2 linked regions of the Homo sapiens genome follow. The protein of the gene in region 1 purifies or fractionates together with the protein of each later gene. This does not show direct contact. Each region holds a gene or a part of one and is shown in the gene's direction. Other genes may lie near its edges.

Region 1 (6,838 bases):
CAAGGCCCAGCTGGTGGTGCACTCGGCCTTTGAGCAGGATGTGGAGGAGCTGGACCGGGCGCTCAGGGCTGCCTTGGAGGTCCACGTCCAGGAGGAGACGGTGGGGCCCTGGCGCCGCACACTGCCTGCAGAGCTGCGTGCTCGCCTGGAGCGGTGCCATGGTGTGAGTGTTGCCCTGCGTGGTGACTGCACCATCCTCCGTGGCTTCGGGGCCCACCCTGCCCGTGCTGCCCGCCACTTGGTGGCACTTCTGGCTGGCCCCTGGGATCAGAGTTTGGCCTTTCCCTTGGCAGCTTCAGGCCCTACCTGTGAGTCTACCTCCTGGACTGAGGGACGGTGGGGTGGGCTGGTTAGCAGGGGCTAGTGCCCCAGGCATGGCTCTGACCCCCCGCTTTTCCCCATGCATCAGTGGCGGGGCAGACGCTGAAGGGGCCCTGGAACAACCTGGAGCGTCTGGCAGAGAACACCGGGGAGTTCCAGGAGGTGGTGCGGGCCTTCTACGACACCCTGGACGCTGCCCGCAGCAGCATCCGCGTCGTTCGTGTGAGTCCATGCCCTGTCTCTCTGGCCTCATGGCGTCCTGGGCTCTTGCACCATTAGCGCCTTGCCAAGTCTGTGGCCTGTCCCTCTCGCCTACATCAAGGTCAGCTGACCAGGAGCTGACAGGCTCCCAGCCCTGTTCTCTGCCCAGAGGGCGTTCCCAAAGTGGGTAGGGAAACAGGAGGGAACAGAGTGGGGGCCTTGGGATCTGATAGGCCTGAGTGAGGGTCCCCACTCTGCCACTCGTGGCTGGGTCAGCAGGGACTATGGGACCAGCTCCAGGCCTCAGTTTCCTTATTTGGAGCATGGGGCGGTGATGCCATCTTGTGGTCATTTTGAGGATTACTCGCTCCACAGATGCGTCCCTTGTGCTGTTCTGGGCGCTCTTCTGCCTCCACAGAAAGGCCCGGGCTCGCTGCGGTCACTGTGCTGATGACACTGCGCGGGGCACTCTCTTTTTTGAGACGGCATCTCGCTGTGTCTCCTGGGCTGGAGTGCAGTGGCACGATCTCGGCTCACGGCAAGCTCCGCCTCCCGGGTTCACGCCATTCTCCTGCCTCAGCCTCCCAAGTAGCTGGGACTACAGGCGCCTGCCACCACGCCCGGCTAATTTTTTAAAAAATATTTTTAGTGGAGACGGGGTTTCACCATGTTAGCCAGGATGGTCTCGATCTACTGACCTCGTGATCCGCCCGCCTCGGCCTCCCAAAGTGCTGGGATTACAGGCGTGAGCCACCGCGCCCGGCCTTGCACGGGGCACTCTCAACTCTTGATGCCCAAAGTTGTGCGTGGGGCCAGCAGCATCACCCTCCACCAGGAGCTGGTCAGAAATGCAAAAAGAACCTCTGGCTGTCCCCAGACCTCACCACCATCATCACCACCATCACACCATCACCATGACCCTCACCACCATCATCACCACCATCATCACCATCACCCCATCACCATCACCACCACCATCACACCATCACCATGACCCTCACCACTCACTGTCATCACCACCACCATCACCATCACCATCATCACCACCACCTTCACCACTCACTGTCGTCACCACCATCATCACCACCACCTTCACCACTCACTGTCGTCACCACCATCATCACCACCACCTTCACCACTCACTGTCGTCACCACCATCATCACCACCACCTTCACCACTCACTGTCGTCACCACCATCATCACCATCACCTTCACCACTCACTGTCGTCACCACCATCATCACCACCACCTTCACCACTCACTGTCGTCACCACCATCATCACCACCACCTTCACCACTCACTGTCGTCACCACCATCATCACCATCACCTTCACCACTCACTGTCGTCACCACCATCATCACCACCACCTTCACCACTCACTGTCGTCACCACCATCATCACCATCACCTTCACCACTCACTGTCGTCACCACCATCACCACCACCTTCACCACTCACTGTCGTCACCACCATCATCACCACCACCTTCACCACTCACTGTCGTCACCACCATCATCACCACCACCTTCACCACTCACTGTCGTCACCACCATCATCACCATCACCTTCACCACTCACTGTCGTCACCACCATCATCACCATCACCTTCACCACTCACTGTCGTCACCACCATCACCACCACCACTACCACCACCACCGTGGCCACCATCATCACCACCATTAGCATCACCACTGTCACCGTCAGCTTCACCAACACACCGTCACCGCTCACCGCCACCAGGATCACCACCACCCAGACGCACTGACCTCATATCCTGGTGGTTTTGTTAATTATACGTACTTGGTTCTTCCGGTGAGCACCTTGATGACTTTAAATGGTATGCTTGAATTTAGTGAGCACCTTGATGACTTTAAATGGTATGCTTGAATTTTTTTTTTTCACTTGACAGCTTTAGAGATTGTTTCTTGCCTTCCCGCATGGAAGATGAGGAGAATGGGCCTCGCTTCTCTCTCTTTTGCCTCCTCCCTCATCTTCCATCTCAATTTGGTCAGTTACATTATTTTTATTATGTCGTAAAGGTTTCTGTAACTATCACAAAGCCTCCATGCGTGGGCCATAGGTTGGTAGACATACTATAATAATGAAAAAACATTTACCACTGAGCCATAGAAAGAGAAGTGAAATCCTAGTTATTAAAATTCTGTTCTGTAAAAAAGATGTTCTAGGATTCAAGGCTAATGGCTTTTCTTTTTTTGACTTTCTTCATTTTTTCCAGGCCATTCTTGACCACCGGGTTACTCAGTACCCCGCTTGTCACCTTTTGGCACAGACTCTTTTGTTTAGTGGGAGTATCTCCTTGAGTGGGTGCTAAACATATTTGACTTTTAAATTTACGTATATGTGAACATATATGTTTAAACATATACATTTATATATTAATATATACATTTATATATATAATTTTTTTGAGACAGTGTCTCTCTCTGTTGCCCAGGCTAGAGTGCAGTGGCATGATCTCGGCTCACTGCAACCTCCACCTCTTGGGTTCAAGTGATTCTGCCTCAGCCTCCCAAGTAGCTGGGATTACAGGCACACACCACCACACCCAGCTACTTTTTGTATTTTTAGTAGAGATGGTTTTTTTTTTTTTTTTTTTTTTTTTTTTTTTTGAGACGGAATCTCACTCAGTAGCCCAGGCTGGAGTGCAGTGGTGCAATCTCAGCTCACTGCAAGCTCTGCCTCCCGGGTTCACGCCATTCTCCTGCCTCAGCCTCCTGAGTAGCTGGGACTACAGGCGCCTGCCACCACGCCCAGCTTATTTTTGTATTTTTATTAGAGACGGGGTTTCACCATGTTAGCCAGGATGGTCTCAATCTCCTGACCTCATGATCTGCCCACCTCGGCCTCCCAAAGTGCTGGGATTACAGGCGTGAGCCACCGCGCCCGGCTGAGACGGGTTTTTTTTTTTTTTTTTTTTGAGACGGAGTCTCGCTCTGTCACTCAGGCTGGAGTGCAGTGGCACGATGTCGGCTCACTGCAAGCTCCGCCTCCTGCGTTCACGCCATTCTCCTGCCTCAGCCTCCTGAGTAGCTGTGACTACAGGCGCCCGCCACCGCGCCCGGCTAAATTTTGTATTTTTAATAGAGACGGGGTTTCACCATGGTCTCGATCTCCCGACCTCGTGATCCGCCCACCTCGGCCTCCCAAAGTGCTGGGATTACAGGCGTGAGCCACCATGCCCAGCGAGACGGGGTTTTGCCATGTTGGTCAGGCTGGTCTCGAACTCCTGACCTCAAGTGATCCACCCACCTTGGCCTCCCAAAGTGCCAGGATTACAGGCGTGAGCCACTGCACCCGGCCGACTTTTAAATTTATATTGCCCTTTACAATTAGAGGTATTTTGCAACTGTAATTTGATGTTGGTATGAACTTCCATGTTCTCGTGTGTCCTAATATGCCCTTATTTGTCCTCATTCTTCATTACTAGTTTGGCTGGATATAGTGTTCAGGTTCAAAATATGTTTTTCCTCAGATATTTGAAGACATTGCTGTTTTTCTTCATTCTTAAAAGAATATTTTTCTTGGAAAGTTAAAAAATATCCCCCCATGGTTTCTTAGCATCTGGTGTCGGTAATGAGAGACCCAATGTGAGAAGGTGAGACTTCTTCCGGTTTGCATATTGACCTTGTTGTGTGTGTGTGTAAACTTGCAGGGTTGGCCAGCTGCGGTGGCTCACGCCTGTAATCCCAGCACTTTGGGAGGCTGAGGCGGGCGGATCACGAGGTCAGGAGATCGAGACCATCCTGGCTAACACAGTGAAACCCCTTCTCTACTAAAAATACAAAAAAGATAGCCGGGCGCGGTGGCAGGTGCCTGTAGTCCCAGCTATTCGGGAGGCTGAGGCAGGAGAATGGCGTGAACCCGGGAGGCGGAGCTTGCAGTGAGCCGAGATCGTGCCACTGCACTCCAGCCTGGGCGACACAGCCAGACTCCCTCTCAAAGAAAAAAAAAAAAAAAAACTTGCAGGGTTTTCTTTCACTCTGAAGGTTGAGGTTTCCTGGCACGTGGGTGCCAGGGGCGTTGTCTTTCCTCATTGTCCTTCTTGGCATTTCACGGATCTTGTGTATCTGAAGATGTTCCTTCAGCTCAGGGAAGCGTCTTCCCTGTGTGTGCTGGAGCTCCGGCCGGTGGAGCTCCTGCTATGCCGGCTCAGACCTCAGGCCCCCTCACCTGCTCCCTCGGAGTTCCTTTCTCTTCCGTTAGCTTCTCACTCTGCATCAGTTCCTGAACTCCATCTAGAACGCTAGCTGGGTCTTCAGTTTGAACCACTTCCTCATTTGGCTCACCCCCTCTAGATTTAGCTCAGCGTCCCTTTCTGAATGCAGGAGCACTCTGGTTTTCAGACTAGTTCCTTTTCATAGCAGCTAGTTTTGTTTAATAGACATGGTGTTCTTTTGCAACTCTCTGAAGAAACTATTTAAAATTTCTTTAAAAGTGTTTCCCAGGGCTGTCAGGTTGGTCACCTGAGGCCTTCTCTCCCACCTGGGTCTTTCAGCACTGAGAGGTCTGTGGCATCTCCTCGTGTTGGAGTCAAGTCCTGTAGGCAGCATAGGGCCCTGGCTCAGCTTTTCTCTGCAGAGGCCTCGCTTGAGTGGGTGGGGTTTGCCCGCCCGCAGACCTCCACGGGAGGGGGAGGGGTCAGGCCTCCCCAGCGGCCCTCTGAAGTCACTTGCTTCACGGAGGTGTTACTGTCTGCTGCTGGACAGAGCATGATGGGGGCTGCAAGGGCTCCCTCAAACCCTGGACTCCTCCAACAGAGGGCTCCTGGTTGCCAGGCTCAGCTCTGCCCTGCGTCGGCCCCAGGGCGTAGGGAGGGTGTTTAATCCTGGCCCGGGCCTTCCCCGCAGGTGGAGCGCGTGTCGCACCCGCTGCTGCAGCAGCAGTATGAGCTGTACCGGGAGCGCCTGCTGCAGCGATGCGAGCGGCGCCCGGTGGAGCAGGTGCTGTACCACGGCACGACGGCACCGGCAGTGCCTGACATCTGCGCCCACGGCTTCAACCGCAGCTTCTGCGGCCGCAACGGTGAGGCCTGAGCCGGGCAGGGGCGGGGGCTCTGCGCACCCCGACCACCCTGACCTTGCCCCGTCTCGCCCTGCAGCCACGGTCTACGGGAAGGGCGTGTATTTCGCCAGGCGCGCCTCCCTGTCGGTGCAGGACCGCTACTCGCCCCCCAACGCCGATGGCCATAAGGCGGTGTTCGTGGCACGGGTGCTGACTGGCGACTACGGGCAGGGCCGCCGCGGTCTGCGGGCGCCCCCTCTGCGGGGTCCTGGCCACGTGCTCCTGCGCTACGACAGCGCCGTGGACTGCATCTGCCAGCCCAGCATCTTCGTCATCTTCCACGACACCCAGGCGCTGCCCACCCACCTCATCACCTGCGAGCACGTGCCCCGCGCTTCCCCCGACGACCCCTCTGGGCTCCCGGGCCGCTCCCCAGACACTTAACCGAAGGGGCCACCCTCTGGCCTCCTGCTTCCCAGGCTCCCAGCTCCGCACAGGCTGATGCTCCCCGCCCCCAACTGTGGCCGCCTGAGCTGTCCCCGGGGACGCCCCTGCCTCCCTCTGCGGGCTCCAGAAGGCGGTGTGGGGGATGGCGGTCAGCAGCGGCCGAGGGGGGCCGGGCTAGGTCCCAGCCTGGGCCGACCCCACCACCAGGGGTCAGCAGAGCCCAGGAGGCGACACCGCCCGCCCGCCGCTCCCAGACCTCGCCCGAGTCGGCTCTGTTGTTTGAATAAACGTGAACGTGAACCCAGGCGGAAGGGACCCGGGAACTCTGACTGCGACCTCTGTTTGGGGAGTGGGGATCTCCGCGGCCCAGGGGCGGGATCTGCTGCTTCCGAGGAGGCGTCGGGGTGCGGGGCGGGGCCCGGAGCTCACCGGGGCGAGCGCACGACGTTCCCGTGTCGCGCACGCCGGCGCAGACAGCGTCTCCTTGACTACCGGCCCGCCCCGTGCGCCGGGGGCTCAGGTGTGCGCCGCTGCCCTGGCCGAATCGCCCGCCCGGGCCCCAGCCCCGCCGCTCCCGAGATCTCGGCGGCCCCGCGCAGACACGGGCGCCCGATCTCGCTGGCAGCGTTCGCTCGCTCTCGGCCGGGCCCGCGCGGCGCAGCTCTGGGTGGGGGCCGGGGCGGGGCTCGGGGCTCGCCCCGCCTGCGCCGCCTCCGCCGCTCTCCCGGCCCGAGCAGTCTGGCTGCGGCGGCAGAGCTGAAGTGAGCGGAGCCACCAGGCATGTATGACCGCGGCCAGGATGGAGAGGCGCGCCGCGTGCGGGCGCTGCGGGGTGGGGGTCGGG
Region 2 (7,035 bases), on another chromosome or scaffold:
TTTGCTTAACCATGCTCTATAGTACACATTTTTTGCTGACCACTTGGGAATAAGCTACAGATACCATGACCATTTTTGCACCCTGAATACTTCGCACCCTGATACAGGAGTGTGTATGTCTTAAGAACAAGAATGTTTTCTTGGAAAATTATATTTTTGTGTGTATAATTAATCATATTCAAGAAATTTAACATTGATTCAATCTAATGTCTAATGTGAAATTCATGTTTTAATTTTAACAATTGTAATGTCTTTCATAGCAATTTCCCCCTCCCCCCAAGGCAGAGGCAGGGATGGTACACGAGTTCTCTGTCCTCTGGGTGCTACATTAAGTCATGTGATGTCTGTTGTTGGTAACATTAACTTGGTTCCCTTGGTGTCCACCAAATTTCTCCATGAAGCTGCCATTTTATTTTTGGAAGTAGCTTCTTCATAGTTGTGGGGAAAGAGGATTTAGGTGAAATTATTAGGAAAAGGCTTATCAATCCTTGGACATTTTACTCAGATATTACCTACTGGCATGTGTAGTCTCCTTTAAAAAAAAAAAAATGTAGGCTGGGCACGGTGGCTCACACCTGTAATCCCAGCACTTTGGGAGGCCAAGGCGGGTGGATCAGTTGAGGTCAGGAGTTCAAGATCAGCCTGGCTAACATGGTGAAACCCCATCTCTACTAAAAATACAAAAATTAGCCAGGCATGGTGGCGGGCGCCTTTAATCCCAGCTACTTGGGAGGCTGAGGCATGAGAATTGCTTGAACCTGGGAGGCAGAAGTTGCAGTGAACTGAGATCCTGCCACTGCACTCTAGTCTGGGCAGCAGAACAAAACTGCCCCCCCCCCCCCCCCCCCCCCCAAAAAAGTATTTGTTCCATCTTAGCAATGTGTTACCTTTCTCTCTCAATGTGATTGACAGACCAGGTCTTTTTTTATAGTTAGGTGTATACTTCCTCTATAGTTTTAATTTTTCCATTTATCTCATACTGCTTCTCTTGAACTACATACTCTGTTGTATGGGCAGCCTTCAGCTCCATTGCTGTAAACAGTGGTGCAGAAATTTTAGAATTTTAATGAGCTTTTGTGAGAGTACTAGGGCAGCTATCAATGCTCATCTTAAGATGGAACTGGCCATTTTGAGAAACATATCTTTGCCTGTATCTATGTATGTTTATAAGCTAAAGTCTTAGATACAGATTGACTTGGTTAAATGTTACTTGCACTCATAATTTTGTTGGATACTGTTATTGCTGAACTTTTCTGGTATGGCAGCCTAATTTTCTGTCTTTTTCCCCTCCTTTGGCTTCTGAAATCCCTCTGATTATGTTGTCTATGTTGAGGCCTTCTCTTCAGCCTTTGGCCCTCTGTTCTGTCTTCCTCTCCCTCTGCAAGTTTTTTTTTTTTTTTTTTTTTTTTTTTTTTTTTTTTTTTTGAGGCGGAGTTTCGCTCTGTCGCCCAGGCTGGAGTGCAGTGGCGCGATCTCGACTCACTGCAAGCTCCGCCTCCCGGGTTCACGCCATTCTCCTGCCTCAGCCTCCCGTGTAGCTGGGACTACAGGTGCGCGCCACCATGCCCGGCTAATTTTTGTATTTATGGTAGAGACGGGGTTTCACCGTGTTAGCCAGGATGGTCTCGATCTCCTGACCTCGTGATCCGCCCGTCTCGGCCTCCCAAAGTGCTGGGATTACAGGCGTGAGCCACCGCGCCCGGCCCTCTGCAAGTTCTTAACTCTGCGTTTCTCCCTTCCCTTTAGAAGCCATCTCCTTTTCAGTCTCTAGTCCCACCCTATGTTCTAGCTCCCCAGCTACAGCTGCCTGCCCACCTTTTCCACTCAGTCTTCTACCATTCCAGATTTCTCTCTTGTCAATCCCCTTTATCACTGTATCTTCCTTGCTGTGGGGTAGGGTTCCACCTTTAAGTGGGGGCACTTAGGTCTTCTCTCTCCCTGGCATGAGTTTTCTGCACTCACTGGTCTGGTTGTTTACATGTGTTGACAGTAACTGCCGCCTTCTGGCCTTTTCTCCGTGCTGCTGCCTCTCTTCTGGAGCACAATTTTTTTTTTTTTTTTTTTAAGACAGAGTCTCACTCTGTCACCCAGGCTGGAGGCTGGAGTGCAGTGGCACAATCTTGGCTCACTGCAACCTCCACTTCCAGGGTTCAAGCGATTCTCATGCCTCAGCCTCTCAGGTAGCTGGGACTACAGGCGTGTGCCACCATGCAAGGCTAATTTTTGTATTTTTAGTAGAGAAGATGTTTCACTATGTTGGCCAGGCTGGTCTCAAACTCCTGACCTCAGGTGATCTACCGCTTTGGCCTCCCAAAGTGCTGGGATTACAAGTGTGAGCCACTGTGCCCGGCCTGGAGCACTCTTTCATGTCCTCTTTGCCTTTCCAAATACTTCCCAATCTTCAAAAACCAAATCAACCTTTTGTGTGAGGGCTTTTCAGCCTGATCCCCCTCTTCTGAGCATTTCCTTTGTTAAGATGCATGTAAGGCTGTGTTTTACTTCCCTGGGACATTGCTCATCGGCTTATTTTCTTAGTTTTCCTCATGCTTTTGGATTGTCTTGTGTGCTGGATTGGAAGGCCAGTCTAGGCCCCCCACCAGGCTGACTCACTTCTCTGCTTACAGTAGGGAATGAGAAAGGGTGGTATCATGATTTGAACTTTACCCAGTCCCACGTGTCATTTGACTTGAGCTGGAAATTTGCAGTGTTTTTTTGGGCTGCTGATGTGCACAGGAAGGAGTTACTGGCCCTGGACAGTATGTCAGGAAAGCTGTCCTGGAAGAAAGGAGGCCAGACACAGGCCACAGAGGGCTGGTGCAAGCTTGGAAATTGGGTGCCTAAGACCTTGCTTTTGTGTTGAAAGGTTTGTCCGATATGTGCCTCGATGCCCTGGGGAGACCCCAACTACCGCAGCGCCAACTTCAGAGAGCACATCCAGCGCCGGCACCGGTTTTCTTATGACACTTTTGTGGTAAGTCTGGAGCCTGGGCTCTGATCCCTCCCCTGGGGGAGTGGCACGGCTACTTCACTCTTCTCAAAAGGGGAAATGGGGATCCCCAGTGTTGAACTTTGTCGCTGTTGTGATGGGCTTCCAGTCTGTATACTGGATACAGTGATAAAGGGGATTGACAAGAGAGAAAAGAAGACTGAGTGGAAGAGGCGGGCAGGCAGCTGTAGCTGGGGAGCTAGATGGGCTTCCAGTCTGTATACTGTAGCTACTATACAGTTTCTATTCATGGGCCAGGCAGGTGGCCAGAGTGACATTTATTTACTTACATGAGATGGAGTCTTGCTCTGTCGCCCAGGCTGGAATGCAGTGGCGTGATCTCAGCTCACTGCAGCCTCCACCTCCCGGGTTCAAGTGATTCTCCTGCCTCAGCCTCCTGAGTAGCTGGGACTACAGGCGCATGCCACCATGCCCCATTACTTTTTGTACTTTCAGTAGAGACAGGCTTTCACTATGTTGGCCAGGCTGGTCTCGAACTCCTGACCTCGTGATCTGCCCACCTTGGCCTCCCAAAGTGTTGGGATTACAGGCGTGAGCCACCACGCCCGGCCCAGAGTGACATTTAAGAAGATGATCTGGGCTGGGCGCAGTGGCTCACACCTGTAATCCCAGCACTTTGGGAGGCCGAGGTGGGCGGATCCTGAGGTCGGGGGTTCGAGACCAGCCTAGCCAACATAGTGAAATCCCGTCTTTACTAAAAATACAAAAAAATTAGCCAGGTGTGGTGGTGGGCACCTGTAATCCTAGCTACTTGGGAGGCTGAGGCAGGAGAATCGCTTGAACCTGGGAGGCAAGGTTGCAGTGAGCCAATATCGTGCCACTGCACTCCAGCCTGGGCAACAGAGCAAGACTGTCTCAAAACAAACAAGAAGATGATCTGGTCAGTCTTTGAGACAGAGACAGTGATACTTGCTCTTTCCATCTCCTAGCCCTGCCACCAAATTTTTGTCTACTTTTCTTGTGGTTTATATAATTTCTGCCTGTTATAGAACTTGGTTTGGGGACAGGTGCGGTGCAGTGGTTCATACCTACAATCCTAGCATTTTTGGGAGGCTGAGGCAGGTGGATCGCTTGAGCTCAGGAGTTCGAGACCAGCCTGGGCAACATGGGAAAACCTTGTCTCTGCAAAAAATACAAAAAGTAACCAGGTGTGGTGGCTCCTACCTGTAGTCCTAGCTACTTTGAGGGAGCTGGGACAGGAGGATCTCTTGAGCCCAAGAGACGGAGGTTGCAGCAAGCTGAGATCATGCCACTGCACTCCAGCCTGGGCAACAGAATGAGACCCTGTCTCAAAAAAAAAAAAAAAAAACAAAACACACACACACAACAACAATTTGGACTTGGGAGGCTCAATCTCGCATGTCCATGGGGACCATAATTGAAATGATCCTCCTGAGGATTTCCAAGCCAGGTGGTGCCTGACTCGTTATGCTGCCATCACCTTGTTTTCCTATGGAAATGCAGGCGCAGCATTGCCTAGCTTCTCCACCCCCCATGCCCAAGCAGGACAGGAAAATTTCACAGGAGGTTTCACAGGTTTTAATTATCTTCAAAAATACTTCAGGTCAAATAGCATATATCCACTAGCCAAATACGGCTGTCAGGTTTATATTCTTTCCCTAGAGCTGGATGGTTTCAAAGGGGCACACTGTTGTCTTGCCATTATAGTAGTAGGTAACTTTGGCCAACTATATCAAGTAAACCTCTTACTTACATATATAGATGTCAAGTTAGGATTTTAGAGTGGTATTCGGTCTTGATGGCTGAATTTCAGTATCTAAGAAAGAAAGCTCTCTGCTAAATTGTCATAAAGAATATTTTTTCTCAGTCTGACAGTGTCTGAAACTCAGACTTCAGAATAACTGCCCTTTTTGTTAATGTGACACAGATGAATTACATTCATCTGTGTCACATTAACAAAAATGACTCATTAAAAATGAGTCCTAAAAATGACTCATTAAAGAGGGCTAGTTGCGCTATAGTTTCTGCTGTATTGTATGGCTCTAAAAATCTGATTCTGTACTGTGCACTGATTCCACCTCTCAGAAACAACTCTTCAGCTCAGTGCATCTGCGTGCTCTGTTCCGACAGACTTACAAATGTTCTGAGCACTTGGTCTGTGCCAGCCTCCATTCGTGTGCTGTCTGGGTTTCTCAATCTCCATTTAAGGGAGGCATCCTTAACTTCATTTAAGAATCAGGCAGCAGACTGGGTGCAGTGGCTCATGCCTGTAATCTCAGCACTTTGGGAGGCCAAGGCGGGTGGATCACGAGGTCAAGAGATTGAGACCATCCTGGCCAACATGGTGAAACCCTGTCTCTACTAAAAACATAAAAATTAGCTGGGCATGGTGGCGCACGCCTGTTAGTCCCAGCTACTCGGGAGGCTGAGGCAGGAGAATCACTTGAACCTGGGAGGCAGAGGTTGCAGTGAGCCAAGACTGTGCCACTGCACTCCAGCCTGGCAACAGAGCGAGACTCCATCAAATAAAAAAAAAGAGAAGGCAGCAGAGACAGATTAATTTTCCCAAAGTTACATACCTAGCATCACAAACAGTTGCACTGGGGATCCGGTCCCTGGCAACCTGCTCCGGATCCAGTTGCTAGGCTGTCCTGCTTCTACTGAAAGCCAGTCTTTGCATCTAGAAACAGTTGCTGAGGCTGCATGTCTCTTTTTGCCCTTAGGATTATGATGTTGATGAAGAGGACATGATGAATCAGGTGTTGCAGCGCTCCATCATCGACCAGTGAGCAGAGTCCGTGCTTGCTATCTGTCTCATGTTACAGAGCTTCCATTACATATTAAACGTGAAATCTATGACTCCTGTACCTTACCTGTTCAACAGACCTGAAAATGAGCCATGGCATTGGGACAGGGTCACTTCTGACAGGGGAAGTGGGTCCCCAGGTCAGCCCTTCTCTTCCCTTTGGGCTCTTGCCAAAGCTGTCTTCCCCTACTGTTAACCTTGTTTGTCACACGGTCGAGTTCGTATTGGTTCTCGGCTACTTCCTGGAGCTTCTGCCGCCTCCTGTGGAAGATAATCTAGCTTCTCCACCTCTTGTTTCACACTCATTCCTCCCATCCAGTGTTTGTCTCTCGGGTCCTTCAAGCCAGCCAGGACCTTTTCTGGGTCATGAATAGCACAATGAAGCAAGTGTCTCCTTTCCTTGTCCCCAAGGTGTGCAGACTTTGGCAGCCGTGCACCTGACCAGAGCTGAAGCTCCCGCTGGGCTGTGGGGTTGCCAGAAGCTGGGGTTGCCATCCCGGGGTACATGTCACCAGTCCTCTTGGGGTTTTGTACCATCTGATGCTGGAAGTTTTGATTAGTGATATTTTCTACTACTACATATTTAGAGTTCACTGGTTCAGTCTTAAATGCCTGCATGGTGCCTTTTTAGGATAAGGTATAACCATACATTTTTGGTGGAAGTGTTTCTGGGTTAGGGAAGTTAAAGTCTGTTTATCCGTAAGTGGGGAGGAGGGTCAGCTAAGAGAAGTGGGAGGGCCAGAGCTTTTTGGTTCTGATTTACAAATTAATGAAGTAGTTTCAAACAACGCGGTCATGTTTACCTCTCCATTTGGGAGCCTGCCTACATTCTTGTTCTAGAAGCACAAAAAATCCTCAGATGAATTAGAAGAAAGAGGTTTGGGGACTCAGCGGATACTAGTTCTTTTACCTTCTGCTTGGTAACTTAGATTAAACTGAGCATTGTTTTTCTGTCACAAATGTTTTCCTTATGACACTGGTTTCGACATGTAAAATGTGTTTGAAAACCTGCTTTGTAGATGCAGAGAGAAGCTATAGGAAACCCAGTACCACCCCTGGTCTGTTCTGACGAGACATCGTTCATAAGGCACAGCACATCGCAAGATGAACAGTTGTTAATAAAAGCTGTTGCTGGAAACTTGCTTTAGGAACAGCTCAAGAACCTTGGAGTTCATATTTCACAAATATTAATAAATATAAGTCCAAGAGCTGTCAGCCTAATCTGTAGGAGCAGAACCTCTGATTGACCAAAAGGCATATG

The links. Proteins that work in one complex are often made in the same cells at the same time.
Region 2: the proteins of PARP10 (region 1) and RNF114 purify together in Homo sapiens (affinity purification with mass spectrometry; 2 studies listed by BioGRID and IntAct, with this or other methods). This does not show direct contact.

Annotation. Positions count from the first base shown.
Region 1 is NC_000008.11:143,976,637-143,983,474, reverse strand, and holds the end of PARP10 (protein mono-ADP-ribosyltransferase PARP10), read left to right. Parts: coding exon 1-308; intron 309-409; coding exon 410-543; intron 544-5,393; coding exon 5,394-5,568; intron 5,569-5,644; coding exon 5,645-5,991; 3' UTR 5,992-6,317; downstream 6,318-6,838. UniProt on the Homo sapiens protein: ADP-ribosyltransferase that mediates mono-ADP-ribosylation of glutamate and aspartate residues on target proteins. In contrast to PARP1 and PARP2, it is not able to mediate poly-ADP-ribosylation.
Region 2 is NC_000020.11:49,946,385-49,953,419, forward strand, and holds part of RNF114 (E3 ubiquitin-protein ligase RNF114), read left to right. Parts: intron 1-2,863; coding exon 2,864-2,971; intron 2,972-5,691; coding exon 5,692-5,757; 3' UTR 5,758-7,035. UniProt on the Homo sapiens protein: E3 ubiquitin-protein ligase that promotes the ubiquitination of various substrates. In turn, participates in the regulation of many biological processes including cell cycle, apoptosis, osteoclastogenesis as well as innate or adaptive immunity.